2 separate regions of the Homo sapiens genome follow, and region 1 is linked to region 2. The links come from fine-mapping of genetic effects on gene expression. Tissue or cell type: thyroid. Region 2 holds a variant in brackets; the other region holds the start of a gene. All regions are shown on one strand. Distances are between the middles of the regions.

Region 1 (2,681 bases), 27 kb after region 2:
GGAGCTGAAGGCCCCCAAACTCAGGGCGGCCTTCCTGAAGCCGTACAAACCTCCGGAAACCTTTATTTTTCTTTAGCTGCTCCTGGAGTGAGGGAGAAAGGATTGGAAGCAGGGAGAGAAGCCACTCCTTATATTGCATTCATCTGTATCCACATTCCCAGCCTTCAGTAAGCTGTGCTCCTGAGAGAAACTCTCGTTTCTCTACAAGGAACTTACCACAGAGCTGAGCACCCAGAGGGCTCTATAAATGCAGGAAATGTATGAAGTTTGGGTCTCCAGATGAAGGGGAAAGGTAAGGGGCAAGATTTGAGGTCATCTCCAGGTTACCTGCAGGGTGGTCTGGGACCTCTCTGAGTTGGCAGCAAATTGGTTATAGAGCTCCAAGTGGCGGCAGAAGCCCTCCAGCCCTTGGCCCCAGCATCCTCCTTCCAGGTAGGGAAGCAGCTCCCTGTGTGGGCAAGGACAGCAAAAGGGCAGCTCTAGAACCACTCAAGCACCACCTCATTTAGTTTTCATGAGAATAGCACTAATAGTAGTGCTATTACCCCATTGTACAGATGGAGAACAAGGGCATGCTAAGGCCCTGGGCCAAGGCCACAGGTGAGCTAACTGGCGGACTCCAAATAGAACCTAAGTCTGACTCCAAGCTCTGTGCACGGCCACAGGCCAGGACTCTCCCTCCTTTCCTCTCCCTGTGCCCCTTCCACTCACTGGCTGGCGCCGTAGATGAGCTCCCAGGAGCCAAACAGGGCCTGGCGCTCAGGTGGTCGCAGGGTCCCCTTGGCTTTCAGGATCCCCAAAAAGTACTGCGGAAGGAGAGAACATTGGTTCTTAGCCTAGAGGAAGAGAAGGCTAACGCCAAGCGCCCCCAGAAACCGCAGAAGTCTGCCCAGGCTCCCTACATGCTCCGGGTTACCGACCTCGCAGAGACCCTCCCACACCCTGGGGTCCCTGTCCTATAATGGGAGCGTGTGCCAGGTCCCCCACCGTGGCCACCAGCCCCAGCTGTTCTTGGTAGCGCCGCTCGGTCTCTAGCAGCTCCCGGGCGGTGCAGGCGCGTTTCCGCTCCCAGCGGGCACGCTGCTCTTGCACCGGGCACCGCGAACCGGGGCAGGAGAGCTCCATGCCCTGGCTGAGGGATCGACACTTCCGGCTGCAGTCCGCGGCAGATTCAAATCCCAACCGCTCGCGGGCGGGAGCCGCGGAGGCGGGGCCGGGGAGGGCAGCGCGCAGGAAGGAGCATGCGCGGCGAGCGGCCGGACCGCGCAGGGTCTCTTCTGTCCAGCCCCACCGCCAGAGCGGCGCTTTAGGTGCGCGGCGCCGGCCAAGGCAGGGCAGGGCAGGGCAAGGTTGGGGGCAGGTGTGGAGCCCTCCTCTGAGTGGCACTATGTTGGAGCAGCAGCCTGAACTTTGAGTCAGGAGACGGGCTGCAGATGCTGGCAGGAACTTAATGTCCTATCTGGAGAATTGGGACGGGGGGCGGTCATTACAGTACACATTCTGTCCTGGGCCCATGCCAAATGCCAGGGGGTCAGTTGTTCCCAGAATTGGCTAGGAAAAGGTATAGCCATTTGAAGGAATGATATGAAAGTATTAAAAATGGTGTTGTAAAGAAGCTATCGATATGGGAAAACGCACATAGTAAGTATATTGCTGAGAGGAAAAAAAGCAGGCTACAAAGGTGTATAATATAATCCCCTTTGTATAAAACATATATAAAATGTTGGAAGGCAAAACAATCAAAAGTTAACTCTGTTGCCAGGCACGGGAGCTCACACCTGTAATTCCAGCACTTTGGGAGGCAGAGGCAGGAGGATCACCTGAGCCCAGGAGTTCGAGACTCCATCTCTCCAAAAAAAAAATAAATAAATAAAAAATAAAAATAAAAAGTTAACTGTGGTTTTTATCTCCGGGTAATGGAATTGAAGATAATGTGTTTAACAAATGTGTATTAAGTACCTAATCTGTATCTGTGCCAGGCACTGGATCACTGAAGCTAAAGGGATGAATGGGACAAACAGGGTGATTTTAAAAATTCTCTTATACTTCTGCCTTTCCCAAGTTTTCTACATTAAGCATGCATTACTTTGTAGTTAGAAAAAAAAAGTTATTAAAAAAAACAAAATGTCAGAAACTTTAGGCTCCCTCCCTACTGTTTTGGACTCCTAGGAATCTGGGCCGCAAGCCAAGAACCAGAGGATTGTCAGGGTTCTGAGGTCTCTACCACCTCCCCACCAGCTCTGACATTCTAAGAATTCTAAGAAAGGAATAATGCTGGGCTTAGACCAGGGAGGAATAACTTGAAGGGCTTGGATGAAGGAAGGGGAGAGTTTGGATCAGACTGTACCTTGGGCTTATGTCCCAAGGAAACTGGTGGTGATACCAGATAGGTAAAGGACTGGTTACACTGTCTCAAGTGAATGTGGGACAGTCCACACACTAAGAGCTCAAACATGGAAGAGGACAGATAATCCCATGGTAATTGGTGTCACTGTGAGCCCAGGTGATGAGAGTAGACCACAACACCTGGGGTGCAGTTGGTGATGGGTGTGTTTGTGAATGCTGCCAGTGTGTGTTAGTGCTTTGGGTGGGTGGAAGAGGGGTGGGGAATAGAGCCTCCTGTGAGCATCGGTTGGGGAATCATTCAACTCTAGAAGAGGAAGAGGGCAAAGCCGAGAAGA
Region 2 (2,681 bases):
TTGGTGCTGAAGACCCGGGACAGGAGGACTCCTTCGGGAGGCGGGTCCCCTGTCCTCGCCCTAACTCTGTGAGGAGATCCACCTACAACCTCGGGTCCTCAGACCAACCAGCCCAAGGAACATCTCACCAATTTCAAATTGGGTAAGCGGTCTTTTCACTCTCTTCTCCAGCCTCTCTTGCTACCCTTCAATCTCCCTCTCTTGCTACCCTTCAATCTCCCTGTCCTTCCAATTCCAGTTCTTTTTCCTCTCTAGTAGAGACAAAGGAGACACATTTTATCTGTGGACCCAAAACTCCGGCGCTGGTCATGGACTCAGGAAGACAGCCTTCCCTTGGTGTCTAATCACTGCGGGGATGCCTGCCTGATTATTCACCCACATTTCATTGGTGTCTGATCACCACGGGGATGCCTGCCTTGGTCATTCACCCACATTCCCTTGGTGGCAAGTCAATTGTGGGGACGCCTGCTTTGGCTGCTCACCCACATTGCAGCCCAGGGCTGCTCATCACCCCCTGCTCCGTGTCTCTACCTTTCTCTTTAAACTTACCTCCTTCACTATGGGCAACCTTCCACCCTCGATTCCCCCATCTTTTCCCTTAGCCTGTGTTCTTGAAAACCCCTTCAACTCACACCTGACCTAAAACCTAAATGCCTTATTTTCTTCTGCAATACCACTTGGCCCCAATACAAACTCGAAAATAGTTCCAAGTGGCCAGAGAACGGCACTGTCAATTTGTCTATCCTACAAGACCTAGATAATTTTTGTCGAAAAATGGGCAAATGGTCGGAGGTGCCGTACATCCGGGCGTCTTTCACACTTCATTCTCTCCCTAGTCTCTGTTCCCAATGCGACTTGTCCCAAATCCTCCTTCTTTCCCTCCCACCTGTCCCTTCAGTCCCAACCCCAAGTGTTGCTGGGTCTTTTGAATCTTCCTTTTCTACCGACCCATCTGACCTCTCCCCTCCTCCCCAGACTGCTCCTCCTCAGGTCGCTCCCCACCAGGCTGAATCAGGCTCCAGCTCCTCTTCAGCCTCCGCTCCCCCACCCTATAACCCTTCTATCACCTCCCCTCCTCACACCCAGTCTGGCTTACAGTTTTGTTCTGCGACTAGCTCTCCCCCACCTGCCCAACAATTTCCTCTTAGAGAAGTGGCTGGAGCTGAAGGCATAGTCTGGGTACATGCGCCTTTTTCTGTATCAGACTTTTCCCAAATCAGCCAGTGTTTGGGCTCTTTCTCATCAGACCCCGCTAAATATATACAGGAATTCCGATATCTAACTCTGTCCTGCAAGTTAACCTGCAGTGACTTAAATGTCATCCTGACTTCCACCCTCTCCCCAGATGAACAGGAAAGAGTTTTTTCTCTAGCCCAGTCTCACGCTGACAACCGC[T/C]GGCTTCATGAGCCAGGCCTCCAGGAAGGCATCAGAGCAGTTCCCCGAGAGGACCCCCAAAGGAACTATCAGGCAGATTCCCCAGGTATAGCTAGGCGAGATTACATGATTTCCTGCCTAGTTGAAGGGCTTAAAAAGGCAGCACACAAAGCTGTTAATTCTGACAAGCTAAAGGAAACTACCCAAGGTAAAGGCGAAAACCCAGCCCAGTTCCTGGCCCGCTTGGCAGCAACCCTTAGACGCTTTACCGCCCTAGACCCAGAGGGGCCGGAAGGCCGCCTTATTCTTTTTTTTTTTTTTTAGATGTATTTTACTTTTATTTTTTTAATCTTTGGGCACAAAGATTTGACACATTATTTCAAAAGAATACAACTACTCATCCAGTAGGAATAAATTCAACAAACATTAATTGATGAGCAAAGTACTGGCTTTAAAAAAATAAACTAAGTAAATTTTTTTTCCCTTGGGTAATAAAATAATAATAAAAGAAGAGACATTGGGTTAAGCACCCTTAGGGCAAAATAAAAATGCAATTGGTTTCTCAAAAACTTGCTTTTGACATCTCAAAAAAAGTCATGCTAGGGAAATGAGCTAAGAAAGCACATTGTTATTTGTACGTGGTAGTGTGACATCCTTGCCATGTTGAAGGTAAGACCATCTAAAGGTCAAGACAGTACACAGAGACTATAAAAACAAAATTGAAATAAAAAGCAGGATAATAAAATGAAAGGAAAAGTAGAAACTGCCAGAAAGAAGCAGAAGCAGCACAACTGTCAAGGAGACAGTGTAAATTCAGATGCCATCAAGCTTTACCACAAAGAGATAAAGGAAAAGGCCAATTTTGATGACAAATGACAAAGTGTAACATCCAAAGAGAAATGGAGAAAAAAGAGGTCATCTGTCCTCCTGTGAACATTTGAATAGTTCTCAGATACACTTAGTTTGAGCAGAATTATGTGATTACTGAGTTCTTCCCTCTCTGCTTGGCAAAAATGATGGAAGTCTTGTCTCCAATTTTAACCCTATTTGCCTTTTTGCAACAATATGGCAGGTTGTTTACATGCTGGCTGGGGAAAGGGAAACTAAGAGTAAAAACCAACCAGTTGTTACTTTGCAAAATGGAAATGTAACTCTGAGGATTAAGCAATCTTGACTGCTAACAAAATTAATTCCTGAACACCATGAAAAAGGAAAAAATACATAGAAATTGATATTTTAAACGTTAAATATTCAGCAGTTTCTCTTATTTGGCAAAATCTTTTTGAAGCAAAGCTGATCTCATTTTG

What was found. PIP is the estimated chance that this variant, and not a neighbour inherited with it, causes the effect.
Region 1: ARHGEF39 starts here. The variant in region 2 is fine-mapped to the expression of ARHGEF39 in thyroid (GTEx, PIP above 0.99). The same link has a PIP of 0.9 or more in esophagus muscle, gastroesophageal junction, hippocampus and spleen.

What each region holds. Positions count from the first base shown.
Region 1 is chr9:35,664,045-35,666,725 of GRCh38, forward strand. It overlaps ARHGEF39 (Rho guanine nucleotide exchange factor 39), which reads right to left and starts at 1,151. Exons shown (of 9, transcript NM_032818.3): 1 at 988-1,151; 2 at 712-806; 3 at 328-448; 4 at 1-82. The coding sequence starts at 1,125. RefSeq lists an enhancer at 940-1,019 and a silencer at 1,170-1,319.
Region 2 is chr9:35,637,344-35,640,024 of GRCh38, forward strand. It overlaps a transcript of CD72 not described here. Among named protein-coding and RNA genes, the nearest start is that of SIT1, 12 kb to the right of the region's middle. The variant T/C (reference allele first, on the strand shown) is at 1,396.